Linked DNA regions of Homo sapiens. The protein of the gene in region 4 purifies or fractionates together with the protein of the main gene of each other region. This does not show direct contact. Each region holds a gene or a part of one and is shown on either strand. Other genes may lie near its edges.

What was found.
Region 1: the proteins of IFT122 (region 4) and NUDCD3 purify together in Homo sapiens (affinity purification with a luminescence readout; one large-scale study listed by IntAct). This does not show direct contact.
Region 2: the proteins of IFT122 (region 4) and PFKP purify together in Homo sapiens (affinity purification with mass spectrometry; one large-scale study listed by BioGRID and IntAct). This does not show direct contact.
Region 3: the proteins of IFT122 (region 4) and SDF4 purify together in Homo sapiens (affinity purification with mass spectrometry, with the first as the bait; one large-scale study listed by BioGRID). This does not show direct contact.

What each region holds. Positions count from the first base shown.
Region 1 is NC_000007.14:44,482,584-44,490,563, forward strand, and holds part of NUDCD3 (nudC domain-containing protein 3), read right to left. Parts: coding exon 7,826-7,980; intron 2,702-7,825; coding exon 2,385-2,701; intron 1-2,384.
Region 2 is NC_000010.11:3,097,568-3,105,547, reverse strand, and holds part of PFKP (ATP-dependent 6-phosphofructokinase, platelet type), read right to left. Parts: intron 6,274-7,980; coding exon 6,196-6,273; intron 4,628-6,195; coding exon of another isoform or gene 4,548-4,627; intron 4,184-4,547; coding exon 3,994-4,183; intron 1,770-3,993; coding exon 1,604-1,769; intron 940-1,603; exon of another isoform or gene 434-939; coding exon 389-433; intron 156-388; coding exon 47-155; intron 1-46. UniProt on the Homo sapiens protein: Catalyzes the phosphorylation of D-fructose 6-phosphate to fructose 1,6-bisphosphate by ATP, the first committing step of glycolysis.
Region 3 is NC_000001.11:1,214,555-1,221,820, reverse strand, and holds the end of SDF4 (45 kDa calcium-binding protein isoform 2 precursor), read left to right. Parts: intron 1-1,090; coding exon of another isoform or gene 1,091-1,122; exon of another isoform or gene 1,123-2,887; intron 2,888-2,893; coding exon 2,894-3,052; intron 3,053-3,187; coding exon 3,188-3,363; intron 3,364-4,016; coding exon of another isoform or gene 4,017-4,132; coding exon 4,133-4,309; 3' UTR 4,310-4,890; downstream 4,891-7,266. UniProt on the Homo sapiens protein: May regulate calcium-dependent activities in the endoplasmic reticulum lumen or post-ER compartment. Isoform 5 may be involved in the exocytosis of zymogens by pancreatic acini.
Region 4 is NC_000003.12:129,515,048-129,523,027, reverse strand, and holds the end of IFT122 (intraflagellar transport protein 122 homolog), read right to left. Parts: intron 7,541-7,980; coding exon 7,429-7,540; intron 5,560-7,428; coding exon 5,434-5,559; intron 3,922-5,433; coding exon 3,842-3,921; intron 3,461-3,841; coding exon 3,296-3,460; intron 2,853-3,295; coding exon 2,763-2,852; 3' UTR 2,521-2,762; downstream 1-2,520. UniProt on the Homo sapiens protein: As a component of the IFT complex A (IFT-A), a complex required for retrograde ciliary transport and entry into cilia of G protein-coupled receptors (GPCRs), it is required in ciliogenesis and ciliary protein trafficking.

The DNA.
Region 1 (7,980 bases), on a different chromosome or scaffold from region 4:
AACAAGCTTCAAAAAGATCATTCTGATCAGCAAATAAATTAATTGCCTGCAAGAACAAAACTCAACACTCAACAGAAGAAATCAAAACCCAGAGACTCGACAGCATAACATCCATTAATGTCTAGCATCCAATAAAAAATTATCAGACATTTGAAAGAAAAAGAAAATGTAACCCAAAATCAGGAGAAAACTCAATCCCTAGAAACAAACCAAGAAATCACAGAGATAATGGAATTAGCAGATAAAGACTTTAAACTATTGTAAGTATATTGAAGGATTTAAAGGAAAACCAAGGTAGAAATTGAAGCCATAAAAAACAATCAAGGGGAACCTGCAGGGCTAAAAAATAAACTATCTGAAATTAAGAAGTTACTAGATGAGTTTAACTACAGATTAGACACCAAAGGAGAAAAGACAGTAAAGTTGAAGACAGGTCAACAGAAAATATTCCAAAGGAAGGACAAAGAGAAAACAGACCTCCTAAGTGTGTGTGTGTGTGTGTGTATGTGTGTGTGTGCTCAAAAGTCTCCCAATAGTATAAACACAAGGACTATCATGCATGAGTAAATCTTAATCAAATTGCTCAAACTAATGATAATAACTTCAAGGAACTGATATAACAAGAGAATGGGGATATTTCACACACAGGGGAACAAAGAATGTCTACTCACTTCTCATCAGAGACAGTGCAAGCTAGAAGACAATGGAATGATAGTCTTTAAAATGTTTGAAGAAAAACAAAAACAAAAAAAAAGTGTCAACCTGCAATTCTATATCCAGCAAAAATATCCTCAGAAATGGAAGATGAAATAAAGGCATTTTCAGACAAAAAAGCTGAAAGAATTCACTATCAGCAGATCTGCACTATAAAAAATATTTTAAAAAGATCTGCAAGGAAATATCAGATGTCTGCCTTCCACCCTATACTCCCCACTTCCAATCTCTAAATCCTTATTTCACCCCTTCTCATCCAGAGCTCCATATTCAAGAGCTGCTCCCCTTCTCCATCAGCTTGGTTCTGCCATCAAACAATTGTTTTCTTCGAACTCCATTAGTTAGCCTGGACTTTAAGACTCTGCAATCTTGCCCCTCCTGTCTTTACAAAACTTATTTTCTCTTACTCCATATTTTATAAGCCATTCCAAGTTGTTCACTTTGCTTCATTAACTAGAAAAAAAAACAAAAACTCCCCCACAGCCTAGGCAATACAGCAAGAAAATATTTTTAAAATTTAGCCAGGTATAGTGGCAGACATCTCTACAAAAAATTACAAAATTAACCAGATGTGGTGGTGCATGCCTATGGTCCCAGCTACTCAGGAGGCTGAGGCGAGAGGATTGCTGGAGCCCAAGAGTTCAATTCATATATTGCGCTATGATCACACCACTGCACTCCAGCCTGGCCAACAGAGTAAGATCCGGTCTCTATTAAAAAGTGTGCACGCACACACACAATCTCCCCCAAAACACGTCAGAAAGAGAGTAAAGGAGTGAGAAAAACAGAAGAGAACTCAAGGTGGCAGGGATTTGGGGGCACACAGGTGACCCATCCTATCAAGGAGGGAAGAGAGTGAATTTTCCAAAAAAACAAAGCAGGCCAGGAGGCTCGTGGCTGTCTTGCAGACACTACTACAACTCCCACACAAGAAGGGATCAGCTCCTCTCACTCAGACTGTAAGGAAGGACTGTATAACTAAGTTTAGAGCACCCACAAAACATAACTCCTAAAAAGTGAGTACAAGTACATAAAGCAAGAGGCTTGATTCAGGGAAACCTCATGTCATATTCAAGCTCTACTGCTCATTAGCTGCTTGACTATCGGCTCATTTAAAATTCACAACAGCTCTATGAGACAGGTACTATTATTATCACCTACATTTTATAGAGAAGAAAACTGAGACACAGAAAGGTTATACTGCTTGTTCAAGGTAATACATTCAGGAAGCGGCATAGCGAGGATGTGAATCCAGTCACCTAAAACAGACTGTCATTTCAGGTGTCCATTATACCTCAGGCATCATGAGCAAATCCTAGCAGTGCTCCTGCAGAGAGAAAAACACAAACAATCGAGCTGCTGAGGCTAAGCCTCTAAACACAGATAAAGTTAGGTCTTTGTGAGAGGAGTCAAGTGCTCTAATTTTGGCTCTGGATCTCAAATGGTTGTATGACTACTGACCTTACCAAATGAGGGAACTGACCTTAAGCCAACTGACCTCCCATCCTACATAACTGAAAGACTGTAATGCAGCAGTTTACAAACATGAAGAGCTAAATAAATACTGAGATCAAGAATTAATGTGTTACAAAGTAAGAATAAATTATGGAGAAACCCAAACACCAGATGTTACGCAAGAAAGAAGGAAGCTGCAAAGTAGAAATTCCCACCTGGGAAGAATTGGTGGTTCCCTAGGGACTTCAGCAGCACCAGCAACTGCTCCTGGAGCTTCTGCCTCCTGTGAACCATGGGCCATTTCCTTCACAGGGCCTGGAGGCTGCACTTTCTCTACTTCCTGATGCCCATCCAATTCTGTGGTGGAGTCAATCTCTATTTCCTGGACTGGAACTGGGACTGGCTCCTTCTCAGCTGCAGCAGCTGACACAGTCTTGGCCTCTTCCTCTTCCTTTCTTCTGATTTTCTCTTCAAGTTCCTGCCTTCTCTTCTCATCATCCTGACGGGCCATGTGGTCAAAGGTTTTGAATACCTAAAATCAAACACCAATCCAGCAATCAGTTCATCTGCCCAATACTGTACCACATATCTTGTAGAAATGTCGTAAAATCTGTGAAGGAGAGAACTAAAAGTCAGAAACTGACAAGTTTTCCCACTGGCAAAATGGAAATGCACTGCCACTTCACCAAAAGCTGACAGGTAAACAGTGTTTAACAGGAGGATTCCAAAATCAACAAAATCAGAAACTTATAAGCCAAGGCTAACAATATTTACATACCTAAAAGATGTACAGTTAGATGGTCTTTGTTGTCATTATTTTACAGACCCCAGTCTTGTTCACAATGCAAAGAATACACGGTCCTGGTACAACTGTGGGTTATAAAGGCACCAAAATTCAGACTCACAAATGAAACATGAAAATATGGCTGAACTTCAATTCCCAAAATGGAACCAGGTTTACAGGACTGCTGCTGTTTTTCACCACACTGCATGGACATTCAATTCAACAAACATCTACTATGCGCCTACAGTGTGCAAGAAACACGCACGCACAAAAAACATCAAAATGATTTCTGCTGCCTCCTAAGAACTCAAAATTCTGGTGTGTAAACAAGTTCTTAACATTTTCTGGGAAACAGTCACACCCATGAAGGTGCTGGGACCTCTCTACCAAAAAAGTACAGTCAAGACATACCCACACATGAAAACTCTGATACAAGAGGGGGCATGACAAGGCCCTCAATTCCCTGTCAGGGTATGGGTGGGAATGAGCATGTCTGGCGAAAGAAATCTAGGGAGACTTCTTGGAACAAGGAGGATCCCAGTTAGACCCTGAATGAGAGGCACATCTTCCACAGGGAACCACTGGAGGAAATGCCACAGCTCTAAGAATAGGCTTGTCAAGGAAGGGCAAAAGCTCTTGCAATAACTGGAGGAAGGAAAGGCTGAGACAGCAACCTGGGACATGGGTGGGAGTCAGATTCCAAAGGGCTAGAATGCGGACAGGTATTAAATAACAATGTTCTGTGCACTGCGCGGGCAGTCAAAAGGGTGCTAACAGACTAACTGTGTCAAATTATTTTACAAACATTCTCTCAAAACCCTCACAAAAATACTGTGAAGAAGACAGCATCAACATTTCAAAAATGAGAAAAAAATAAGGCTTGGAAAGGTTACGTAACTTGCCCCAGCTCCTGCTGGCAAAAGAAGTAAAAAACTACGCAGCACACACCAAACAGTGTGGGGAGATGATGATGTAGGCAGAGGGGAAAAAAAAAAATCAATAAAATCCTAAAAGGTTAAAAACTGGAAACAACACCAGAACCATTTTTACTTCTGCAGATAACCTGAAGCCCTGACTTCATTCTAACATTAGGGTCTCTACCGCTTTGAGTCCATGCTTTCAGAGTTGCTCATCCTGCTGATACTCCAGATCTTCATCTTAACTCCACAAAAGCAAAGCAACAAGATCTCTCTCTCCTAACACCTGAGACTTCGAACACAGAACCCCCAGACTTGATAGTCCTCACCATGCAGCTGCCTCTGCTCACTCAGTACATCCAGCCTTCTCTGACCTACCCATTCACACCACCAGGAAGTGCTACCACTGCCAACCTCCCAACTATCACATGTTCTCAGTACTCATTCTAGAGTCACAGAACATAGGGCTGGAAGAGAACTCTAATCTGTAACCTCCAATCAATCTTCTCAGCTGACAAGAGGTGAAGTGACTCTCCCAAGATTTCTCAACAATTTATGTAAGGAACAGGATGTAGCTAGCTTTCCTGATTCTAGTTTCAAGGACTTCTACAAAGGAGCACTTCTCAAAGTGGACTCCAAAAAAAACAGCATTATCGATTATAATGAATGGCTTGTCAGTCTAAACGATTTTTGTCTTAAAACATACTAATGTATTATAAAATGGAATGCAATTTTCACATACATCATTCCTGCTGAGGTTCTTCAAGCTGTGTATCCAGGCTATGCAAACTTTTAAAAGGAAACGTATGAGCTGCCTAACTCTACACCAACACTGTACTCCCCAAAATATTAAGGGAACGCTTTGAAGTTCCACAATGATGCAGCCCAGCACTCCCATCCAAATTCTTCTCTGCCTATATTCAGCAGAGACACCAAGCATCCCACATCTGGTGGGGGTGGAGAGGCAGACCCCAGGAAGGAGTCTTATGCCATCAAGTTAGGGACAGAAAAAAAAAAAAACCCTAAGAGGCAGATGAGTAGGAGTGGGGAGGTCAGGAGATCACCTACTACCACGAAGAAATAATGTTATGCTGGTACCAAGTCACTCAGTCTCATTCAGTGTTGTCCCACCCCACAATAAAACCCTTGTCAATACTGAAATCACCTTTACAAACCTCCTGTCAAATGAGCTTTTGTGGATAAAAGAACAGGTTCCAGCCAGGTGCAGTAGCTCATGTCTGTAATCCCAGCACTTTGGGAGGCTGAGGCGGGTGATCACCTGAGGTCAGGAGTTCAAGACCAGCCTGGCCAACACGGTGAAACCCCATTTCTACTACTAAAAATACAAAAATTCTCTAGGCATGGTGGTACATGCCTGTAAACCCAGCTACTCGGGAGGCTGAGGCAGGAGAATCACTTGAACCTGGGAGGAGGAGGTGCAGTGAGCCAAGATTGCGCCACTGCACTCCAGCCTGGACAACAGAATGAGACTCCATCTCAAAAATAAAAAATAAAAAAATAAAAAAAAGAACAGGTTCCCAGGATTCACCCTGATCTACCCAACCAAAATATCCAGGAATATGTGCTTTTAAAAGTTCCTTGGCCAGGCGCAGTGGCTCACACCTGTAATCCTAGCACTTTAGGAGGCCGAGGCAGGCAGAACACAAGGTCAGGAGTTTGAGACCAGTCTCGCCAACATGATGAAACCCCATCTCTACTAAAAATACAAAAATCAGCCGGGCGTGGTGGCGCACACCTGCAGTCCCAGCTACTCGAGAGGCTGAGGCAGGAGAATTGCTTGAACCCAGGAGGCGGAGGTTGCAGTGAGCTGAGATCATGCCACTGCACTCCAGCCTGGGCGACAGAGTGAGACTCCATCTCCAGGAAAAAAAAAAAAAAAAAAAGAAAGAAAAAAGTTCCTTAAGCGATGCTGATGGTTGAGAACCACTTCCAGAAAACATGACACCTCTCTTAAGCATCTGCTGGAGACTGTTGTCCCCTTGGTTTCTGTGAAACTTATTGCTCTCCACCAAGATTATTCCCCAAGGCCTGTTCTTCACCTTTGGCTCTTCTCTCTCCCTCGGACCACTCCAGTTGCTCTAGCTCCCAAAAGATCTAGTCCAGTAATTCCAATAGCCTATGGGCAGGGACTCCTACCTGCAACTTCAAGTTCAACCTGTCTAAAACTGAACTTTTTCCCCTAAACCCAGGTGACAGTTCAGTTAACGCATTATCACTATTCCAGTCACCCAAGTTGAAACCTTGGATCATCTTTGACCCATCCCTCCCCTTCCTCCATCCCTGCTCCCCATCTCCACTACTTCATTAGACTGGTCACCAAATCCTAACCTATGGAAGTGTCTTGTAAGAGGTGTTACCAGGTAAATGAGTTACCAGGTTAATGAGTGCTCTGTCAGTTCATCTGTGAAACAAAGACCAACCTCTCAGGTTATATTAAGGGTTAAATAAGATAACGACCCCAGAATATAAAACATCTGATACTATACATATTACTCAGTATATACTCCTTTCTCCTCCACATCTTTCTGCAAACTACAATCAATCTAGACAAAAGTGTTCTCATCCTACTATGGAATGGTTAAACAACAGAACAGGAAGATTTGGAATCCACAAAATGAAATTTTTAGTTTCAGCTCTACGGTGAACTGGCTGTGTGTTCTTGGTCAAATCACTTAACCTTGCTGAATTGGTACGTAAACTTGAAACTTATCTGTTTCACAGAGACACTGAAGATCAAATGGCAAGACTTCATTAACCTGCCATAAGATCCTGCTAAAGGCCACCTCCAACAGCTCTCTCATCACTAAGATGGCACTTATGCCACTGACAAGGACGAGGAATAGCCTTAAGTTCTGAAATTGAATCCTAATGGAACCCCATTCCTCGTTTGGCCCTATTACCCTGGTAGCTACCAAGACATTCAAAGCTTTGGCTTCTGCTGAGGAAAGTAACATCTTACCAACCTGCAGCATGCATTAAGACTTCAGGAGGAAACATCTGAAGCATTTTATAAACTGTAACATCTAGAGAACTGAGGGAGGTATCATCAGCATTTCTATCTTCTTGGGTTTCTACAAATAGGCTTAATACTTGGCTGAATAGTTTCTTTTAATCTCATCAGAAGTCCCACCTCTCTTATAAAAACTTCACTTCTCAACCATCATTTCTATTTCCTTTCTTTACAATGGGCTCCATCAAATAATTGCCCTTAAAAAGTTTTCTATTACTTTCTGGGTTTTCTCTCTTTAACTGTGTCACAAGGAGAGAGAAACCATTACTTAAACACCCGTATCACCCTCACCTGCGGCAACTAAGAGTGTAAACTACATTCAGCAAAAGGTTGCTTACCACTACATTCAAAAGTGCCCAGTCAACTTCACTGAATGAGTATTGACAGCGTTTCCAACATACAATAAACTTAACCTGGAGGGTACGGAATTAAGCTCAAATAGAAATTTTAATAAGCACTACATTGACAGTCTTTGACCTGGGAAGTCACATTTCAAACAAGCGACCACACCCATTGATCAACACAATGCCTCCGTCATCCCCGCCAGCTCAAGTCTTTGGTAGTTCTGGGGCATGCACGTTTCTGTTGCTGTAAATGTCCTTCCTTCTGTCTGGCCTGCATGGATTTCGCTCCCTGACTAGCGGCCCCCAGCACCGTGAGGGGTACGCGCTGGCGGGTGCTGAGTAGGGCTCTTAACAGTCGGCTTACTACTTCTGAAACCTCAGGACGTCCGGAGCGAACACCTCAGCGGAATAAGCTGACATCCAATCCGCGCTTCAAATTACTGAAGCCATTCTCACAAGCTCAACCCCAGGACACCAGGAAAAGGAGGAAACAGGCTGGGAGAGCTTGGAGGAGCGGGCGCCAGGAGTCAGGGCAGGCCGGGGGCGGCGGCTCCCCAGACCGCAGGCCCGCCCGCCTCACCTGCAGCACCAAGGCCTGCGCGGCCCCGGGCGGGAAGCCCATGCGGTCCGATGGGTGGCGCAGCAAGCGATAGAAGTCTGTCTTGCGGTAGAGGAAGCCAAAGAGAACGCGCAGGAAATCCTGGACGTTGCCCACGTGCTGCAGGATGCCCAAAA
Region 2 (7,980 bases), on a different chromosome or scaffold from region 4:
TGCAGCCAGCATCGCCCGCTATCAACGGCCACGGGACCCGCATTACCTCCGAGAGTTTGACACACATCTGCTCCTCCCAGCCTTCCTCTGGTGGAGATTCTGGAAGGAACACCCAGTCCGCACCGCAGGCCAAGGCACTCACCAGGGCCAGGTACCTATGTGGACAAGGCAACAGCATCAACACCCCAGAAGGATCCTTCCCACGAGGGCAGCCCAGGCACCCCGCTCAGCGACAGACGTGCAGACCTAACGCCAGGTATGAAGCGGGATGCCGGCCCCTTCAGGACTTTCCACGGGAGCATTCAGGATGTGGGGTGCAGCCTCAGGGAGATGATGCTGAGGGTCCCCCACCTGAACCGCGTCCACCGGACCCACCGCAGGTACGTACCCACAGTGTCGTCCCATCACCTCCAGAACGAAGGTCCTCTGGTGGCTGGAAGAGAAACAGAGGGAGCCCCGGACACAGCTCAGAAAGCAGAGAAACAGAGGGAGCACCCACTCAGTCCTGGAAACAGCTCAGAAAGCAGAGAAAAGGGGCTTTGACAGCCGAGTTAGCCAGGAGGCCTGCAGGGACCTAGGCTTCAAAAATGGTCCATTTTCTACTAAGGCAAACGCTATGCAGTAGCCTTCCAGACTCCTGCGAGGAAGGGGACTTGAGCCACCTCTGCGCTCTCCAGTTGCACGTTGGACACCTTCTGCCTGCCTGTGCCAGGACACACTCACACTCCCCGGCCCCGTGCTGGGCTCTTTCCCAGATACCTTCTCTATTGGGCACAGTCGGCAGCTGCTGTCGACAGCCACGGCTGGATCTCTCCCACGGAAACAAGTGAGTGCCAGACTCACTAAGTGCTTAATGCCCAGAGACTGTGGGTCTTCCCAGGGAATGGAAAAATCCAACTGCTCCGAGCAGCCTTCCAACTCGGTGATTTTCCACCAACTGTGGGGTTCACGCCCACGCACTGAGAATGTCCAGTGAGGCGTCACTGGGAACAGGACACGCACACAGAGGACTGGGAGGCGCCATGCTGGGGACTGGATTCGGGCACTCTCCCAGTCTCGAGCACCTCGTCCTTAAAGGGGAGACACTTATTCTATTTACCATTCCACATGGTTTTCATGCAAATTGCTTCAGAAATTGTACGGTGCGCCCCACAGTCTTTAGTGATAACCTGCTGAGCCTAGAGCACCTCGGATCAAACGCTGTGGCCCCCACGACACTTCGTGAATCCGTAGGTTACACAGGGCAGGACATCGCTGGCTGCGTTTCTAATGAGTAGTGTGGAAAATCCACACAACAGTTTCCTGCTTGCCACTCCTTCTGGAGATGTTTGGGTAGGACATTTAGAGGATAATTACTTTGTTTCTTCCTTCCAAATTCTAATAAACTGTTTTCTATCATCAGGTTAAAAACAAGGAATGTTTTAAAATTAAAAATGAAAAGTAGACCAGAGAACAATGTTCTGGCAATAGCTCCTAAAAGTCAAGTTACGAGACCAGCACCAGGACACCCAATCTGCAGAATGTTCTAGAGCCCGTGGTAACGTCTGAGCTGGGCACACGTCGGGCCCCACTGGCCTCCCGCCGGTTCCTCTGAGCGCTTTACCTCTGGGCCGTGGTCATGATGGCGTCGACGACCTCGATGATCCTGTGCAGGGCGGAGTCCGTGCCGATGGTCATGTCGGTGCCGCAGAAATCATTGTCGATGGAGCCCACCATGCCCACCACGTTGAGGTAGGCGTACTTCTGCACGGCCTCCTTATCGATCTGGCCTGCGCGGGGAGCAAACAGCACGTCTCATCGCCGTAACCATGGCGCGTTCGGGGGGTGCCCCACTAGGGGTGAGGCAGAATGGCCATGGGTAGAGAAATCAACCATTCTAAACTCTTTGTTATTGGTATCATTTCTTTATTATCATTTTTCTGAGACAGGGTCTCACTGTTGACCAGGCTGGAGTGCAGTGGCACCATCATAGCCCACTGCAGCCTTGAACTCCTGGGCTCAGGCGATCCTTCTGCCTCAGTCTCCTGAGAAGCTAGAACTATGCCTGGCTGATTTCTTAATTTTTTTTGTAGACCCACACTCTATGTTGCCCAGGCGGGTCTTAAATTCCTGGGCTCAAGTGGTCCTTCTGCCTTGGCCTTCCAAAGTGCTGGGATTATAGGTGTGAGCCACTGCCCTGGCCGATTCTTTATTTTCTCCGAACTCAAGGCAACCGGATTCTGCATAGTTAAGGAAAGAGAAGCCAGACAAAGCTGGCAGCAGTTACACACAATGGACTCTGTCACCTGGCACTTAGACAAGAGCAGTGGATTAGAAAAATAAAAGAAAGGATCCACATTTGCAATCGGTAAACAAACATCTCAGTACTTCCTGGCAACAGCTTCAGAGAATGACACGGCTTTGAACAGGATACGTTACAATTACGGAATTAAGAATCTAAGACACTAGGCCATCTTCACACTGATTTCTCATGCATCTGTGGGAAGCTGGATCGTGGGTGAGCATCTGCCTCGCACTCAGGACAGACCTGGGCTGGGCAGTTCTGCATAAAGGGAATCGGAACCACTGAAGGGCCAGGGGCAAGCTTGGGCCCGGACTTGTGGCCACTGTCCCGGTCTGTGCACTCACTGTGCTGTGCCAGACGGGATGAGGTGGACAAGCGGGAACCGTGAGGCCTGGCTGCTTCCAACGGGCAGCCTTCTCCATCCCCTACGAGGATGTTCACAAACCTGGGGACAGCTGCTTTGCCTCAATGCCGCCTCTCATCGAGTTGCTGTTAAACAATATGCTTCCCTGGTCATATTTAATATTGCACTGAAATTACATAACCGCTTCAAGGGAGAAAAACTACACTTTGGGAGGCCGAAGCGGGTGGATGACCTGAGGTCAGGAGTTCGAGACCAGCCTGGCCAACATGGCGAAACCCTATCTCTACTAAAAATAAAAAATAAATAAAAAAATTTTAAAAAAGCTGGGTGTGGTGGCGCATGCCTGTAATCCCAGCTGCTTGGGAGGCTGAGGCAGGAGAATTGCTTGAACCCAGGAGGCAGATGTTGCAGTGAGCCGAGATCGTGCCACTGCACTCCAGCCTGGGCAATGGAGAAAGACTCTGTCTCAAAACAAACAAAATCAAACAATCAAACAAAACAAAAATAAACCACATACACACAGGGCTCTCAGAAACGCTTTCCTAAGTAGTGCCAAAGTTGGTACTGGATGATGTATTGGCAGAGATTTATCGTCTAAATAAATTAAAGTCCTGTGGCAACTTCAGTTTTTTTTTTTTTTTTTTTTTTTGAGACAGAGTCTCGCTCTGTCGCCCAGGCTGGAGTGCAGTGGCGGGACCTCGGCTCACTGCAAGCTCCGCCTCCCGGGTTCACGCCATTCTCCTGCCTCAGCCTCCCAAGTAGCTGGGACTACAGGCGCCCGCCACTACGCCCGGCTAATTTTTTGTATTTTTAGTAGAGACGGGGTTTCACCGTTTTAGCCGGGATGGTCTCGATCTCCTGACCTCGTGATCCGCCCGCCTCGGCCTCCCAAAGTGCTGGGATTACAGGCGTGAGCCACCGCGCCCGGCCCAACTTCAGTTTTAAAGGACCCCAGCGAGCTGGAGGGACACAGTGTGAGGGCTGAAAGGCGGATGCTAGTGTCCCAGGCTGCTGGGGACCCGGCTCGCCCCACGGCTGAGTGGCCGTTTGATTCCTCATCTGTAAATGGGATGATCTAAAACCTGGCTTAGATGGCTGTCGTGAGGATTCCATAAAGCTATCTGTGTGAAAGGTCGAAGGGTGCCTGGCACATGGTAAGGTTAAATTACTAGCATTCTTACGATCATTGCTGTTGTTTTTTGAGATCCTAAAAAGTCCTGAGATGGTGACCTGTAAGATCTGTGAGAAGAGGTACTTCTGCCACAGTGAAGAGGGAAACCTGTCGGTTCCAAAGCTCTGAAACAGGGCGAAAACCCGCAGGACAGAGGAGCAGGTGTCCACTCACCGTTCCTGGCCAGCTCCTCCAGCAGCCCACTCCACTCCTTCCGGAAGAGGTTGGCCCCGGTGAGGCTCCCGTCCCCGCCGATCACACACAGGTTGGTGATGCCGCGCTGCAGCAGGTTGCAAGCAGCCTTCAGGCGGCCTTCCCGCGTGCGGAAGGCCTGGCACCGCGCACTGCCAATGATCGTCCCGCCCTGGGAAAGACACCAGCTAATTTATCTCCTCTCAGTCTGAGAGAGCGCCAGGTGGATGGCACACACAGGCCGACTATAAACATGGGGTGCTAGAATTTACATTTTTCTCATTTTCATCTTGTGAGTTAGTAACTAGCTATGAAAGACTGTGATTTTCCTGTTTTTAGTCCCAGACCAGCATTCCATGGACAAAGACAGGCGCGTGACACCCAGGAGGAGCCAGGGAGGGTGCAGAGCCAGACACACGGCAGCCAGCAGTTAAATACATGGAGCAGGAACCAGCCTGCGGTGTCACAGCAGCCGCCTCAGCACCGGCCAACGAGCTCAACCAGGTGCACGTGGAACCAAAGACAAGCCCACTGACCACCAGAGCATGCCGGCCAGGACAAGGGAAGCGGTGTGACCAGCAGCCAGGCTTCTCCCTCCAGTCACCCCTTACAGCACCTGCAAGTAAAACCAGCAGGAACCTGGGGCCAGGGGGATTTTTTTTTTTTTTTTTTTTGCACCACATACTCGCTGCCCCTTTTAAAGAGCTATATCTTCAGGATCTTAAATTCTTTCATCCAAACTTCCAGGGGACATAGATCATGATTCGTCACACTTGGTTTTCCAAAAACTAAGAATTGTTGGTGGGATCCACAAATGCAAGATTTCTTTAAATAAAACCATGAATGCACCAAAAAACTCCATCCGTACGGGATCCCTAAGCGCGTGCTGACTTTGTCAAGCAAGGTGCTCATAAGCACAGCAGGGGTTGTCTCTGCACTGGAGGCGAAGCTCTCCCTGCCTTCGGTCTGCAGGCAGCTCCCAGGAGACCCCTGCAGTGACGTGAGTGCGTGTTTCGATACACCAATGGTGCACGCACACAGCTCATTTTCACACACAGAGACTCACTAATATTCCAAATCCCAGAAAAGCTCCTATTTTTACATGAAACCTACCACCATTTAATTTATCAAAACATTATGAAAAGGTTACAAAAACTGAAATTCACTCCACACGATCCTACGTCACTGGCACCAAGTGTGACCGAGACCATTTACAACCCAACCCCCAAGGCAAGTGAGGGTGGGGGCGCAGAGCAGGGCAGGGGTGCTCTCTGGACTCTGCCTGGACAAAAACCTGGGGGGCAGCACGAGAGCCAGCACAATGGGAGCTAGAGCCAGCAACCCAGAAACTCCAACCAAAGAGACGAGGTGGCCGCAACTCAGGAACGAAACCAGGATAACTGGGCTGCAGAGGAGTGGGTGCCATTCCCATTCTCTCACTCACTCTCTTTCACACACACACACACACACACACACACACCACACACCTACACATACAAGGACACCACATATACACACACCCCACACACAGATACACATTCGCTAGCCAGAAATTCACACAGTTAACACATACACACGGGCACACCACACATACACACTCAGACTCACACACCTACATACAGACACACACCAGACTCACACAGTTACACACACACCGAGATTCACACACCACATACACCACACACAGAAACACAGACTCACTGATACACATACGCACTTCAACTCTCCGTTCACATCTTATCTTCCTCCGTCAATCACGACCGCAGAATGGAAACGCTCCCCTGTGTGAATTCAGCCCACACTCTCCTGATGTTTTGCAAACGTTGCTCCACCTAACTTCCGTGGTTGTCAAAATTCCCTCCACCTCTCTTCTGATGTGTCGGAGCTCAGGAGGCGCCCAATGCAGAGAGAGCCTGGACCAGCACGAAGGTGTGGGCCCCATGAGCGTCTTCAGCGGGGAGGCACCGATTTGGATTATTTCTATTAACAAGTACTCAAAGTGACTCACAGATTAACACATGCATTTCTAAAAATCAAACCACAAGTAAAGAGCTGCTCACAAAGTCTGTTCTGTCCACATAATCTCTATTTCGCAACTGATCTGAGCTCAAGTGTTCTGGGAATTTACTAGACATAAAAGAGTCTCTAACTCAGAGAACCCTGTGGACGCAGCCCAGTACCTACCACTTGCAGGATGCTGGAGACACTCTCCCAGTCGGCCTCTGCGATGTTTGAGCCTCCGTCCACCATGCCCTGGTAGCCCTAGGGGAGAAAGGGAGAATCTTTTAAAAATGAGATAAACTTCACTAAATGGGAAGTGATCCTTAAATTATATAAAACGGGAAAAATGACAGTGAATGTCAGTTCCTCAGCATCCACTGGTCAGAAGACAGGGCAGTTCCAGCACTGGATAAAAGCAGTGAATTGTGGGAAAGTCCTCACCTTGAGTCCCTAGTAATGGGAACGTCTGCCTAGACTCAGCCTCACAGTGCAATGAGGAATCAAGCCATTCTCCTATGGCCCAGCGTTTCCCGAGAGGTTGAAAGGGTCGTGTTTCGCTAGAGGTTGAAAGGGGTCACTTTCACCCAACGTGTTTATCATACTTCAGCACAAACTCACAGGCACACAGCACTGTCGAGCACGGGACATACATGGGAGCATTTTGTCAGGGGCTCCGCCTGCCAAGGCACCCTGCGCCACTTGGGATGTATGTTGAATATTATTAAACAGCACAGCTGAATAATAATTGTCTGCCTTACCCTCCATTAATGACACGGTGCTGCATTAGGGAATCAGATATCAATATGTGAGGACACATTGATAGAAGAAGCCCAAGGACAATTACCTTTTTTTTTTTTTTTTTTGAGACGGAGTCTCACTCTGTCACCCAGGCTGGAGTGCAGTGGCGCGATCTCGGCTCACTGCAACCTGCCTCCCGGGTTGAAGTGATTCTCCTGCCTCAGCCTCCTGAGCAGCTGGGATTACAGGTGCCTGCCACTGCACCTGGCTAATTTTTGTAGCTTTTAGTAGAGACGGGGCTTCACCTTGTTGGCCATGCTGGTCTCAAACTCCTGACCTCATGATCCGCCTGCCTCAGCCTCCCAAAGTGCTGGAATTACAGGCGTGAGCCACCGCGCCTGGCCAACAATTACCTTTCAATGCTAAATGCATCCCCATCTTTTTCTCCACGGAATATACAAGATCAGGAAATGCAGCAATGCCCACGGGTAACTTCATCTACATAACTCACTTTCCACAGCATTTAATCTTAAGAAGGAATAACTATTAAGGATTTAGAAAAGTTCATGATAGATTATTGTTGGATCCATAAGCCCACCTTAGTGAAGGTCCGGAGGACAGAAAAAAGAAAGGTTTTTAAAATTGAAATGACTCATAGATTATGGAGTTCTATATATAAATTAATCAATAGTGCAGGCACCTTGATAGCTGGCCAATTTGTATACTTATATTTATAAATTTCTACCAGAAATATTATATATATATGTGTGTTTATTTTATTTTATTTTTGAGACAGAGTCTTGCTCTGTTGCCCAGGCTGGAGTGCAGTGGCACGATCTCGGCTCACTGCAACTTACATCTCCCAGGTTCAAGCAATTCTCCTGCCTCAGCCTCCAGAGTACTTGGGATTACAGGAACACACTACCACATCTGGCTAATTTTGTTTTTGTTTTAAAGTAGTGACAGGGTTTCACCATGTTGGCCAGGCTGGTTTCCAACTCTTGACCTCAAGTGATCTGCCTGCCTGGGCCTCCCAAAGTGCTGGGATTACAGGCGTGAGCCACCATGCCTGGCCACATGTGTGTTTATAATTTAGTGTCATACATGTAATAAACAAGAAAGGAGAAAACAGTCTGGAATGGAACAGAACCCAAAACAGAGCTGGTTCATTTCAGCGCTGGCAGCCCCGTCTGCACCTCCCGAGACCCCCCAGGCACCCAGGCCCTGGCT
Region 3 (7,266 bases), on a different chromosome or scaffold from region 4:
GCCTGGCTAATTTTTGTATTTTTTGTACGGATAGATTCTGCCGTGTTGGCCGGGTTGGTCTCAAACTCTTGGACTTAAGTCATCCGCCTACTGCAGTCTCCCAAAGTGCTGGGATTATAGGCGTGAGCCACTGCGCCTAGTCTTAGCCTCTTTCTTTTTTTAATTTTTAATTTTTAATTGTTTAAGAGTGAGGGCCTCACTGTTGCCCAGGCTGGAGTGCAGTGGTGCGATCTCAGCTCACCTGTAGCCTCCACATCCTGGGCTCAATCTATCCTCCTTGGAGGACAGAAAAATAAAGGTGTAAGATACGTTCCTGCCAGGAACGGCCCATATCATGTGACCAGCCCCCATGGGGGCGGCCTCCTGAGTGACTGGGACCACCAGTGTGTGCCACCATGCCCAGCTGATTCAAAAACATATATTTTGTAGACACAAGGTCTCCCCATGTTGCCTAGGTAGGTCTCAAACTCTTGGATTTCAGAGGGTTCAAGTGACCCGCTCGGCCTCCCCCCGTCCTGGGGTTGCAGGCGCGAGTGACCCGCCTGCCTTGGCCTCTCCCCATCCTGGGGTTGCAGGCATGAGCCCCTGTGCCTGGCCTTGACCTTCTAGAATGACGCGGAGACTTTTGAGCCTGTTGGCTCTGCCTGCTCTTTTCCCAGTTCACGTACTCTTATCTGGAGTTTGGTCCTGTCCGTTCTAAATCCTGCAAATTGGACATTAAAAAAACTAAAAGTAAGAGGATCTCCCTGTGTTGCCCAGGCTGGTCTCAAAGTCCTGGGCTAAAGGGATCTGCCTGCCGCAGCCTCCCAGCATGCCGGGATTACAGGCACAAGCCCCAGTGCCCGGCCAAATTGGACGTTATTACTTCCTTTCCAAAAGAGTGGTTTACATTTTCCTCCCCACACACGGTTCGTGCCTCCACCCCGGTCCCGCGTTCCCTGCTGTCCTGACTGCGTCTTTAAGCTTCATCCCGTTGGTCCGGCCTGTTGGCGATGTGCTTGGGGCAGGAGGCCTTGCCCGTGCCCGCCCCCCAACTCTGATTGTGTCTGTCTTTCCTTGGTGCCACTTTATTTGGGTCTTTTCTGCCCAGGACATGGCCCACCTGGACCTAGAGCTCTGTGACATTTCTGTGAAGCCTCCGTCTACCTTTGGGACTCAGCAGAGGTGTGTTTAGAATTCACTCTGCGTTTTGGGGGTCCCCATGCATGCTGAGGTGCTGTTCCCTGCCCACCCGTGTCCGATCCGTCTTGGCCTCCCCGACCTCAGGGTGCCTAGGACCCCCCGACCTCTTTGGGTATTTGGTTTCTGGCTCAGGAAGAGCAGCTGCCGGGTCCTGGAGGAGGGGCCTGGGAAGCGCTGGCAGGCGTCACTCCTGCGACCTCCCACCCCTCCCTGCATGGCTCCTGCGAGGGTCACCGCGTGAGTCCGGGGGCTGCTGTCCTCGCGCCTCAGACCTGATTCTGGGGACCGCGGTGAAGGCGTGGCAGGCGGGCATCACTCCCTTCCCCCGCCTCCATCGCTGCCTCTCTCTGGGTCTGCGTCCTCTTCTCACAGGGACAGCAGTCGTTGACTCTCCCTGATCCAGGAGGGTCTCTCCAGATCCTTCCCTAACAGCAGAGGCCCGGCTCGTGGGGAGGGACTGGGACTCAAGGCTTCTTCACCAGCCTGAGGTTGGTGCTGGGGCTCGGCGGCGGCTGTGAGAATCCTGTGCTGGAGAAAGCGTCTCTCGGCCGGCCTGTCTGGGGCGTCTGTGCCTCTCCTGGATGGGTCTCAGTTTGGCCCCGTCCATCCATCCCAGGAGCTGCGGTGGAGCAGACAGGGAGGGGTGCCCCAGGAACCACAGCCCCGTCACTCCTGTCTTCCTTTAAGTGAACCGGTCGTGTAGATGGAGGTTGTTCAGAAAGGGATAAGATGGGACGGCAGCTGGGCCTCATCCCGCAGTGAGCGCGACGCAGAGGCTGCCGGGCTTGTGGCAGGGGCTTCGGCCAGGGCAGAGTCGGGCCTCACGTGCAGGGGGCTGAGTGTGGGCCTCAACACTGGACTTGGCCACTGACTGCAGTGAGCCCCAAGATGGGGCAGGAGGTGGTGTTTCTGTCCTGGAGACCCAGGGTGGCTTGGGTCCTTGGGATGTGTGGGGACCTCGGGGTGAGGGCCCGTTGGGGCCGGGTGGGCACGGCAGGAGAGCGGGGGCCACACACCCAGAGGCAGTGCCGTGTCCCGGCTGGGAGGGTTCCTGGGAAGCTCTGCTCAGCCCCAGTCTCAGTCATTTCTAGAAACTGTGTTTTCCTCCCTGTGACGTCACACGTGAAGGAAACGGAAAAGGGCAGTGAGTCCTTCGCCCCGCGGCGCCGTGCGCACGTCAGCCTTCAGGGTGATTCCGCTCCTCCAGAGGGGCAGGCGCGGGTGTGGGGGGTGGGGCCCAGGCCCATCCTGAGGGGTCCCAGGCATGAGGGGCTCTGAGCTGTGTCCTGGGGTGGTCTGGGCCATGGGGAGGTTCTGGATCATGTCTTGAGAGGTCTGGGCTGTGTGGGGGGTCCAGGCCATGTCCTGGGGGTCTGGGCTGTGTCTGTGGGGAGTCAGGGCCATCCATGTATTGGGGGTCTGGGGCAGGGGGGGGTCCAGGCTGTCTTGGGGAGTCCGGGCTGTGTGGAGGGGTCCAAGCTATGCCTTTGGGGATCAGGCCTGTGGGAGGCTCTGGGTTATGTCTTGGCGGGGGTCCAGGCTGTGTCTTAGGGGCTGGGCCATGTTCTGGGGACGTGTGAATCCTGGAGGGTGGGGCCCCGGTCTCGCGGGTGGCTGTGTCCCTCGAGTTCAGGCAGCACCTCTCGGAACTTTCTGGATTTGCGTGCTGGCGTCTGTCGGCCTCGATACCCACAGGCTGCGCCCCTCTCAGCACAGGAAGTCCTGGAGAACCTGAAGGACCGCTGGTACCAGGCGGACAGCCCCCCTGCAGACCTGCTGCTGACGGAGGAGGAGTTCCTGTCGTTCCTCCACCCCGAGCACAGCCGGGGAATGCTCAGGTTCATGGTGAAGGAGATCGTCCGGGACCTGGGTGAGGCTGGGTCCAGCCTGGCCGGCACGCCAGGACCCAGGACCGACTGGCAGGGGCCGGGCATCGTCGGGAGGTCGGGGCAGGTCCTGCGGGAGCCCCAGCCTGGGTGTGGGCTGACCCATTCCCGTCTCGCAGACCAGGACGGTGACAAGCAGCTCTCTGTGCCCGAGTTCATCTCCCTGCCCGTGGGCACCGTGGAGAACCAGCAGGGCCAGGACATTGACGACAACTGGGTGAAAGACAGAAAAAAGGAGTTTGAGGAGCTCATTGACTCCAACCACGACGGCATCGTGACCGCCGAGGAGCTGGAGGTGAGCCCTGGCGCAGCCGTGTCCCGGAGCCGGCCCTGCGAGGTGCTGTGGCGGGAGGGGCTGGTGGATCTGGGCCTGAGGCAGGAAGCTGTGCTGGTGTCTGGCCTGAGACTCCATCTGGGCTGGTCACTGGGGCGTTTGCTCAGCGGTGTCCACCAGGCTGCATGGCCGTTGTTGGCGTTTAGGTTCAGACGGATCAGAGACAGGCGAGCCTGGCCGGGCTCCATCCTCAGCCCCTTGCGGAGGCGTCAGGGTTCTCACAGCCCCTTTTTAACGGGACCACAAGGGGAAGCTCATGCTGGGCCCAGCATGGAGGCAGGTCCAAGGCCCAGCAGGTGCAGGTGGGCGGGGCGGCCTGTGCCACATGGCTGGAATTTACCACCTTCCTCTGAAGCGTTTTCACTGGTATCATGTGTAGGCTTGTTTTTCTCCCACTGCTGAGTGAGTCATCTTGTTTTTATGTAGAATCCTGTGATTCCTGGCGACAGCCAGTGGGCCCGGCCCAGGTTAGGGATCCTTCAGAACTGGGGTCCAGGCCTGTGTAGCCCCTGTGCCCCGTTACCCCTGCTGGCCCCGGGCAGGCCTTCCGGGGCCCCCGGCTTCTCCCTGCCCTGTGTTTTCATTTGTGCCGCCTCCCTTCGGGAACCTTCCAGAACGTGCCCACACTCCCGCTGCAGCCAATAGGCACCTTAAATAGCCACTTCGTGCGGCTGGCCGCGGAGCTCGGAGGGGGAAAGGCGACGCTGACCTGTGCCCCGCTCGCCCGCAGAGCTACATGGACCCCATGAACGAGTACAACGCGCTGAACGAGGCCAAGCAGATGATCGCCGTCGCCGACGAGAACCAGAACCACCACCTGGAGCCCGAGGAGGTGCTCAAGTACAGCGAGTTCTTCACGGGCAGCAAGCTGGTGGACTACGCGCGCAGCGTGCACGAGGAGTTTTGAGCGCCCGGCCGCGCCCCGCGCCGCCCCCCACGCACCACCGGGGCGGCCTCGCGGGTGACTCCGGGCTCCGTGGCTGTCCCGGACCCCACCTCTTCCCTGCCGCCCGCCACCGGCCGACCGACCGCGGCTGCCCCAGTTGATGAGCGGCGTGTCCCCTCTGCAGCGCGCACCCCGGCGGGGCTTTGGCTGTGACGCGGTCGGGGCGCGGGGCTGGGCTGTGGCCCCGCGGCGCCGCCTCCTCCCTGGTCCCTCGAAATCGTGGCATCTCACTTCTGAGAACGAAATCTCGCTTCAGTCACTCTGCCGAAGGCGCTGACGGCATCGCGGCCGGAACCTCTGGGCCCGGCCCCTCCCAGGGCCGCCGCTCCGTGGGAAAAAACAGCTCCTCCATTTCCTTGAAAACTGAACGATTATTAAAAATAGATTAAACTTCGCTGGAAATGAGTAGCCAGGAAGTTCAGGGGAGGGTGCCGGGTCCTTCCCGGGCCTGGCGTGTCGGAGCCACCCAGGTCCCGCAGCTGCCGCTGAGAAAATGCAAATATTTGTTGTGACAAGAATCACATACATTTACTTTAAATATAGTTGCCTTTTTTGGTCAGCTTCATTCTTTGGGCGTGAAACAAAACACAACAGCAGCGTGCTAGGTTTGTGGTTACAGTTTCCACTGGAGCGCTGGAGGCTGGTGCTGGGTCACGTGGAGGGTTGGAGGTCATGGCCGGTTCGAGGTGATTCTCCTGGCAGGTGGCAACGGGCAGGGGCTCTGGGAGGACGGAGGGCAGCGCTGCGTTTGTGAGTAGGGGTCAGGGGGCAGCAGACGTGCCCACTGAGTTTGGGGTTTGGACATTTAAGGCAGGAGACAGAGCCGCCTGGGGGTTTTGGGTGGAGGATGGCAAGGTCTTTGGGTGCAGTGGGGCAGGCCTAGCCCCAGATGGGGCAGAGAATGGGGTGTGTTAGGACGGCTGGTGGGGGTCCTGCTCTGTGGCGTGTGGGGGCCCAGGCTGTGTCCTGGCTCTCCCAGTGGGAGCTCAGGGAAGCCGGGAGTGTGTCCTCTTCAGTCTGCCCTGTGGTGCCCATGTGACCGGCCTCTGCCCTGAGCCCACCTGCCCAGGGGCCCCTGTGGGGCCGAGAGGGCGGGTTGGCACCTGGGCTGGTTCCCAGGCAAACGAGATTCACAGAGCCACGGCCAGCGCAGGTGGTGGGAGGATGGTCCCACGCCCTGCTCTAAGGGGCTGTAATTCCCTGGAGCCAACCTTCGGTGGCCTGGACTCTGTCTTTCCCCATCCGTGGCCCCAGGCCACAGCCAGGGACCATCATAGCTGCAGCAGCATTCGACGCCCTGTGCTGAGGGCCGTGCACCCAGAGGTGGGAGGTGTGAGCTGAGGCCATGCTGTGCTGGACATGAAGGCGGGGGGACAGCTGGGTATGTGGTGGCACCTGGCCCTTCAGAGGCCCCAGCCAGCTCCAGTCTGGTACTGGAGGAGCAGTGGCCACTCATGGGCTGCCCTGTGCCGCCCGCGACACTACTGTGTGGAGCGGGGAGCCCAGCTCCTGGGGATGTGGTTCGAGCTGCAGGCTGCCTTACAGACCTTGGGGGTCCTGAGCTCTGGGTCAGTGTCCAGCCTCCTGTGGCCACGCCACACCCGGTTCCATGGACACAGCAGGGCTTTCTTGGACCTGTGACCTTAAGCCCAGGACAAGGAGACCTGAGCTTCCTGGGCAGCTTCAAGCAGGAGGGGCCGTGCCCCATCCTGGGGCCATTGCAGTTGCCAGCAATATGCTGGGGGTGCCCTCTCCATGGTGCACGGGCCCCACTCACTGCACCTGTGGGCAGATGTGGCCACTTAGGCCCCAGGAGAGCAGTGTTGCCCACCAAGACCCCCAGTTCACCTGAACCTCCAAGGAACCAATTGCAAATGTAAGCTTTTTCTCACTGTCAGTGGGAAACCCTTGTGAACGCTGGGTGGAACCTTCCACAAAATGCCAGAACTTTCCTCCTCTGCCCACCTGGGTTGGGGTGTGCACATGCAGGTACACACACTGTCTGGGATGCTCTGAGCCCTTCCAGGGTCCTCTCTACTTGTGGGGACGTGGGGAGGGTGACCAACTTAGGGACCCTCAGTCCGAGGGCGGGTGGCCTCTCCCTCCACTCCCTCCCTCTCCAGGGCCAGCGGGCTCCACGGCTGGGAATTTCCCCACGGGTGGGCCGAGGACAGGCAGCTGTTTCCTGTGCTCCTGGGAGGAGGGGATTTCCAGCCCCTTCCCTGCTGCTCTGTTCCTAGAGGCCCCTCTCCACTTGCAACTTCAAAAATGAACTTTTGGATAATCACAGGCTGGTCACAGTTATTTGAAAGGTGCAGAAAGGGCCCAGGGAGCCCCCAGCCCCGCACCTGCTCCCCAGCTCTCCGGGCAGTTCGCATCCTCTGGGCAAACCTGGAACCTGAGAACTGTTTGCATAGAAGGTGGAAACCTGCCTGCGTGCCCGTGTGCGCCAGGCCATCCAGGACCCACCCTCACCACCTCCTCAGAGGCCTGTCTCCAAACACTGCCACATGGGGGTTAGGGCTTCCACGCAGGAATTTAAGGGGCACAGTTCAGCCATAGACACCTGCCGTGCTCAGGCACACTCAGCGTGGGCTGTGGTCACGGGTGTCTTTTTTTTTTTTTTTGAGATGAGTCTCGCCCTGTCGCCCAGGCTGGAGTGCAGTGGCGCCACCTCTGCTTTGCAACTTCTGTCTCCTGGGTTCGAGTGATTCTGCTACCTCAGCCTCCTGACTAGCTGGGATTACCGGCGCCCGCCACCACGCCCGAATAATTTTTGTAGTTTTAGTAGAGACGGGATTTCGCCATGTTAGCCAGACTGGTCTTGAACTCCTGACCTCAGGTGATCCACCCGCCTTGGCCTCCCAAAGTGCTGGGATTACAGGCGGGAGCCACCGTGCCTGGCCATGGGTGTCTGT
Region 4 (7,980 bases):
AGAGCGACCTTGGAGGAGGGGCCTCTGCCCACCTGTGTGACAGCCACCAGGGGCTCCTAGCTTCACAGCCTTGCTGGGGACAGATGGGAAACCAAGGCCCGGGGACCTCCAGCTGCCTGAGGTGCGTCTCCAGTCAGGTCCACCTGAGGCTGCTCAGTCTACCTCTCCCTTACTTCCTCCTTCCAAGAACATGGGCACAATGTTGAGCACTTGGAGATGAGAGATCAGGACCAGTCCCAGTCAGATGGGGTCTCCCTATATTGTCTGAGCTGGTCTCTAACTCCCGGCTCAAGCGATCCTCCTGCCTTGGCCTCCCAAAGTGCTGAGATTACAGGTGTGAGCGACCACACCCAGCCATGTTCAGTTTTTACACAGCCATTACGATCAACAGTTATCTCATTTGTCTTCTTAAAACAATTTTTAAATGTTGTTTAGAGATGAATGTTGCTCTGTTGCCCAGGCTGGAGTGCAGTGGTGCAATCATAGCTTACTGCAGCCTTGAATTCCTGTCCTTGGCTCAATTGATCCTTCCACCTCAGCCTCCTGAGTAGTTGGGACTACAGGCTAAAGGCCAGAATCACTGCCCCACCGTGCAGCCTTCAGCAGCTGCTCCTCTCTGGCCTCAGTGTCCTCTTAGTTCAATGGGCATCACCAGGTCCCTGTGGTGCCTTCCTTGTCACAGGCACTTGAGGGGTCAACAGGATCATCATCCAGCGCTGTTCACAGACGCAGACTGAGGCTGGAACCTCAGAGTCAGAGCTGGAGGGGGCCCTTTTGTGCAGATGGGGAAACAGCCTTGGAGAAAAGACTGGACTTGGTTCAGACCCAGATCAGGCTGAGAGAGAAAAGCAGCCAGACACAGGGCTTATGCACAAAGGTTGCACCCAGGTGCGACCAAATATGCCTTGGCTTAATGCATATTTGCTGAATGAAAAATAACATGACTGAGGCTCAGTGTCATCACCTGTGTAATAGGCAGCCTTGGATGATGCACGGAAAGTGCATCTGAATGAATAGGGGTCCTACTCAGGCCTCTAGAGCTGAGCTTCCTGGGGCAGCAGAGCCCGGCACAGCACACTCATTTTTGTGTTCTTCGGCTGAGGGGATGCATGCTGGAGTCTCGGCTGGAACCCTCCCCTGCCTCCAGCCAGGGACCATCTGATCTGTCACTGTGATTGACTGCTGGGTAGCTGGAGCTGTTTTCTCCCTCTCCCCTTTTTCCCAGCCATATGCAAATGATTTCAGTTGAAGTCATGCGCTAATGGAAATCCTAACACATTAATAAATGTTTAGTGAGAGAGCGCATGCATGATGGTAAGTAATTAGACACTCGACGGAGGAGTTCTGTTGGCACAACTGTCTGGCTCCCTTTCTTTATTTTCCTCCATCATCTCCAGAGAGATGCGGAGGGAGGCAGGGAGGAGGGGCGGTCTGGGGTGGGGCAAGGGCTCTGGGATGGGGCTCTAGCTCCGACACTTCCCACTGGGGGCCTCTGCAGCCACTCTCCTTGGGGTCTCAGTGTCTGCGTCCCTCCAGTGGGCATATTTGCCCTGCCCTGACCCCTGCACAGGTAGGTTGTAAGGAATCAATACTGCAGCACGAGGGGAGGGTGCGTTTCGGCATGGCATGACAGCCCACACCCTCTCTCCTGCCTGTGCCAGCTGTTCTTGGGCTTTTCATGAAGTGCTGCATTGCCACCTCTGGCAGGTGGACTGGGGGTGAAAGGGGCAGGGCCTTGGGGCTGGACACATCATGGGCCGCCCCTCCCAGGGCTGGAGGCAGCCCCTGGGCCCTGGCAACCCCCTTCCCAGCCCCACTGGAAATCATAACTCTTCCTTCACAGGGCTGCTGAGAGGCCTGAGACAGCATGGAACGTGGCTGGTGCCAAAAACGTCCCCCATACATGTGAGTTCTCCTTAGCTTCTGTGTGCTGTTCCTTCCATGCCCTCAAGCTGTTGGACTGGACACCAGTGATGCCTGAGGGAACAGACCTTGGCAGTCTGGAATCTCAAACGGAAACCCCCTGCTTAAGGAGCTGTTCCAAAGGGAAGAGTCTCCATTGGGCTGGGGCTGCTCTGTGGGGCTGGGGAAGGTGGATGGAAGAGGGCGGCTCCAGAGCCTGGACAGGAGCCTTGACTGGGCTACCAAACAGGAGCCTTTTTTTAAACTCCTGCCATCTTCTTTGGACCCACGTATTTTCTCTTGTCAAGATGGATCCCCATTAAATCAAAATAAATAAACAAAAAAACCCCCTGCTCCCCCACCCCTTTCTATATTGCCATTTTGATTAAATGTTAAGAGCACACAAATGTAATGTTCCTTTCAAATTAGAAACAGGTGCACTTTTGCATACGGAAATTAAGTTGCAGACAATAAGATGATTTGCTAAAATGTAGATGCTGATGAAAATAAGGAGCCCTTTTGTCATTATTGAGGCAATCTGTTGGCAAAATGTACATGCTAACGGTCTGACAGATCGGCGGACTCCAGCAGGCTGCCACGAACAACTCGGAGCCGTTCTGAAAGTAACAGATTTTTTTCCTTAGAAAATATATGTACATTCTCTTCCTCATCTCCTGGTGCTATTTACAAGGCATGAAATGCCATAAATAGGAATTCCGTGGTTACACAAGGCCCCCCCCACAAAACACAAACTTCATCTGGGCAAGAAACACATTCTGACAGTTTAACTCTTTATTCTCCTTCACAGCCCAGCAGACCCCAAGGCGGGCAGAGGGTGCAGGCCGTCCCCAGGATGCTGGTCATGGGCCAGGGTCATCCTTGCACCTGCGGCAGTAGGGGCAGCAGCCATGCTGAAGCACCAGCAACTCATAGTCCTCAGAATGGAACATCTAAGGGAAGACAGCTGTAAGACCAGGCTGAAGCCCTAGTGCTCATCAGCCCTACGCCTGGGGCCAGGACGCACTGCCTCTCAAGGGGAGGGGGCTTGGCAGTGGTCAGGGCTGGACACAGACCTGCAGCACCTTTGTTTGAGGGCTGGAAGGGGAGATGGGAGGGGGCTGTGGGGTTTCTTGTTTTCTGAGTGAAGGTCAAGGGCACATCACGCTTGCTGGGCCCCCAGGATTTGGGGAGGATGTGGACAGCGCAGGGGCCAGTGAAGTCCACTTTAGATGCACATGGAATGCAAGCAGGGGAGAGGACAGACAAGCCTCTGTCCCAACTTGGAGCCATGGATGTGCCCCTCCTCCCAGGGGCCACGCCTCCCAGAGGGACATTTGGGCAAGGGAAAAGTGGCCAAGAGAAGCACATGTGAGCTACCAGGGTGGCCACCTACCTGGAAGCAGGAGGGGCACATGGTAATGGAGGCGTCAGGCAGCAGTGAGCGGAAGTATTGCCACCTCAGGGGTGGGGGCCATCGCTTGATGAGGACATCCCGGCGGCTCATGGAGCGCAGCACCAGCCGGCTCACCACCACTGGCACGAACTCTGAGCCACCTTGCTGCAGGGTGGGCGGGAAGGAGGCACAGTGTCCTCACTCAGCCACAGTGAGACATCTGTGTGGATTATGATCCTGGAATCTTTGGCAGTGGTGAGAGAGGACCTGCTTCCTAAACCCAGGTGACCCTAACAGTGGCAAGCTCCTCCCACCAGAGCTGAAGCTGCCTCCCTGTCCACAGACCTGCGCCCTTGGCCATGGTCCCTCGGGGGCAGCCATGGCTCCCACACCCCACAGGAAGGGGTCCTGCCCCTCCTTCGTGCCACCACATCTGGAAGTTCTGGCCAATCCTCCTCCACCACTGCGCTAGCTGAGGGTCCCCATGTGCACAGGAGAAGGGATGGAGGCTGCCCTCCTGCAGGTCACCCAGAGAGGCACCCTCACCTCAAAGCTCAGCTTAGCTGTGAACGGGTCCTCATCTCCGATGGAGTCCTTGGTCTCCACTAGCCGCAGAATCTGGGAGCCTGGAGGGATCTGGTCAAGGATGGAATCAGAAGCAGAGATGGAGACAGACCCTAGCCTCCACCCTACACCCCTGTGAGAAGACTCAAGGGCAGCCAGACCAGTGGAAGAGTTTTCCAGGTGGAGGAACAGAGGGGGCTCAGGCCAAGGAATCAGAAGGAAGGGACTCTGCTGGCCCTGCTGCCCTCACCCATTCCCCTCGCAGGCCACACACACCATAGCTCCCAGGGCCAGTGGGAAGCACATGCGGGCCCTGTGAGCCACTGCGGGTAGGCACGGAGGGGATGGGCCCAGGGATCCTGGAGAAACATTCAGTGGCTGCTGGGGGTCTGCGGGCACTTGTGATGGAGCAGACAGGGGCGAGAGTCCCTGCTGACCCCAGGGCGGGTCAGACTCACCTGGAGGTCCCTGGAAACCGCCCCTCTCCCACAGTGGTGGGGCTGGTAACAGAGGCCAGCAGGGGTCCTGCAGGGAGGCCCAGGACATGGGGACTGCTGGTACCAAGTTGGAGTGGGCACAGCACCCACCTGCCAGCACCATAGCACATATCATCTGTGGCACCTGAGGGAGCCTGGGTGGCAGAGATGGGTCCGTCTTTCCTTCAGCAAGCAGCTCTCTGAGCTTCCCTCCTCCCAGTGTGGCCCCTGGGGGTGGCAGCACCTGGGAGCTGCAAGGAAGGCAGGCTTACAGCCCCCAGGCCTGCAGACTCAGTCAGTGCAAGGGAGCGAGGCCTCAGGCCACGTGTGTGCTGTTCCCTGCCAGAAGCCCCTCCCATGTCCAGCCTGCAAGTGTGGCCTGCCCTGGACAACTGCCCTGGTGCATCCTCCTGGCCAAGGGGCAGGCTGAGCTGTGCCCCGGGGCTTTCACTGCCACAGCTGAGAGGAAAGCTGGCTGTTTCTGGGGGCTATAAGGCTGAGGGGATGTGGGGCTGGCACTGCTCCTGACATCTCTGTGTTATGGGGGCACCACGGGGCTGCCAAAGAATGAAGTTGCCCAGAGGACAGTGCGGCCAAGAGAGGCAGAGCCAGCCTGTGACCGACCAGACTGAGCGCTGGGCCAGGAAGCTTCCTCTCCTGCTTGGGGCTTCCTTGCACACCCTTTGCTTGTTCAGCTTGTCAGTTTTGGACTCTGTCACTTGCATGCGAAAGTGACTTGAGTGGAAGAGCTGGGGGCCAACACCGACATCATGACATCATGTCCCATGTTGGCTATGCAGGAGCTATGCACAGACAGAGGCACAGCCAGTGCCTTTTAGGGGTCAGGGGAGGGTGGGAGACCCACACGGGAAGACCAAGGTGCCACTTGCCACTTCTGGGTCCTTAGGCCCTGGCCAGCTGTCTGCCCATCTCTGATCCCTGTCCCTGTCCCATGTGGGCCTCTCCAATCTCTCTGGGAACACAGGGCCAGGCTCAGCATGGCCCGCGATCCCCTGGGACTGGGCCCTCCTACTTCCCGCCTGTCCCCAGACCCCTCACACAGCCGCACACACAGGCTCTGGCCAAGGGCATGGATACTGTTGTTTGCAATCTCTAGCTGTCTGTCATCCCGCTTGGGTCTCAGCACCTCCAGGTCGATGAGGGAGATGGCTTCTTCATCAGTGATCCCTTCCTCCAGGTAGAACTCAACCAGGTGTAGCACGTCTGGAGGGCATAGAGAAAGGGCTGAGGGGGCTGGAGGCCTTGCAAAGGACTTGCCGCCAGGCAGGTGGGGTGACCACAGAGTTGCTTCTCAACCCACTGGCAGCTTCACCAAAAGCAAGAAGAGGCAGCAGGGGCAGTCTCTGTATGTGTGTGCAGGAGCAGTCTCTGTGTGTGTGTGTGTGTGTGTGTGTGTGTGTGTGCAGGAGCAATGTGTGTGTGTGCAGGGGCAGTTTCTGTGTGTGTGTGTGTGCAGGGGCAGTCTGTGTGTGTGTGTAGGGGCAGTCTCTGTGTGTGTGCAGAGGCAGTCTCCGTGTGTGTGCAGGGGCAGTCTCCATGTGTGTGTGCAGGAGCGGTCTCTGTGTGTCTGTGTGCAGGGGCAGTCTCTGTGTGTGTGTGCAGGGGCAGTCTGTGTGTGTGTGTGTGTGTGTGCAGGAGCAATCTGTGTGTGTGCAGGGGCAGTTTCTGTGTGTGTGTGTGTGCAGGGGCAGTCTGTGTGTGTGTGTGTAGGGGCAGTCTCTGTGTGTGTGCAGGGGCAGTCTCCGTGTGTGTGCAGGAGCGGTCTCTGTGTGTCTGTGTGCAGGAGCGGTCTGTGTGTGTGCAGGGGCAGCCTCTGTGTGTGTGTGTGTGCAGGGGCAGTCTCTGTGTGTGTGTGCAGGGGCAGTCTCTGTGTGTGTGCAGGAGCGGTCTCTGTGTGTCTGTGTGCAGGGGCAGTCTGTGTGTGTGTGTGCAGGGGCAGTCTCTCTGTGTGTGTGTGTGTGTGTGTGTGTGTGTGTGCAGGAGCAATCTGTGTGTGTGCAGGGGCAGTTTCTGTGTGTGTGTGTAGGGGCAGTCTCCGTGTGTGTGTGTGTGTGCAGGGGCAGTCTCTGTGTGTGTGCAGGGGCAGTCTCTCTGTGTGTGTGTGTGTGCAGGAGCAATCTGTGTGTGTGCAGGGGCAGTCTCTGTGTGTGCACGCAGGGGCAGTCTCCATGTGTGTGTGCAGGGGCAGTCTCCATGTGTGTGTGCAGGGGCGGTCTCTGTGTGTGTGGGCAGGGGCAGTCTGTGTGTGTGTGCAGGGGCAGTCTCTGTATGTGTGTGCAGGAGCAGTCTCTGTGTGTGTGTGCAGGGGCAGTCTCTGTGTGTGTGTGCAGGGGCAGTCTCTGTGTGTGTGCAGGGGCAGTCTCTGTGTGTGTGTGTGTGTGTGTGCAGGAGCAATCTGTGTGTGTGTAGGGGCAGTCTGTGTGTGCACGCAGGGGCAGTCTGTGTGTGTGTGCAGAGGCAGTCTCCGTGTGTGTGCAGGGGCGGTTTCTGTGTGTGTGTGTGCAGGGGCGGTCTCTGTGTGTGTGTGCAGGGGCAGTCTCTGTGTGTGCAGGGGCAGTCTGTGTGTGTGTGTGCAGGAGCAGTCTGTGTGTGTGTTCAGGGACAGTCTGTGTGTGTGTGTGCAGGGGCAGTTTCTGTATGTGTGTGTGTGCAGGGGCAGTCTGTGTGTGCGTGTGTGTCTGTGTGTGTGTGTGGCCTCTGCTCAGCTCCTGGGAAGGGGCTTCTGATCCTCTGTCAACATCAAAGGAGCTGGGCCTTGATAACCTATCTCAGCCTCCTGGTCTGAATGCAAAGCCATCGGACTCTCTTTCTGGGGCATTTGGTTATGTAAAGCCCTGCGCCAGGTTCCCAGAGTGGGTGCTTCAGCTTTGGGCAGCAGTGGGTCCTATCTCTGGGAACACCGACAGTGACTCCTTGTGTCAGGTAGGTGGGCGTCAGAGTGTCCTCATTTCATAAACAGGGACATTCAGAGGCCTTTGGCCCTTGCCCAACGTCCTGAGGCCAGAGAGCAGTGGAGTGAGCCTGGCTGTCCACAGGCTGTCCCACCCACATGCTCAGGATGCAGGGACTCACCGTAGGAAGAGGCGGAGAAGATGAAGGGCTGGCGGCAGTTGATGCAGACGTTGCCCAGGTTGTTGAGCAGCGGGTTGTTGGTGGAGCAGCGGTAGCACAAGGGCACCAACTCCTACAAAACAGCCACGGACTCCCGAGGGGCCGGGGCAGGCACGTGTCCTCCTCCCCCTGGACTCTGGCTTCAGGCCCCTGGGGCCTGGCTGCCAAGAGGAAAGGCCACCCGGGTGGGCAGGCAGGGAAGGGGCGCCGGGCCCAGGAGCTCCATGCCATGGGGAAGCAGGATAAAGGCCTGCCGAAATACCCAAGCCCTGTCACTTGGGTCCCCGTGCCCAAGACACCTGCACAGGCAGCGCTCAACGGCACTTTTCCCCTGGCAGGAATGACAGTGGCCGCTGCCACCATTAGCCAGCCATTTACCATGCTCCGGGCACCGTGCGGAGCACGTGGACTATACTGGCTCATTTAGCCTCACAACTACCTGTGGGAAAGGGGGAACCCAAGGTGCAGAAAGATGGAGACAGAGCTAGGAGAGGGTGGAGCCGGGATGTGAAC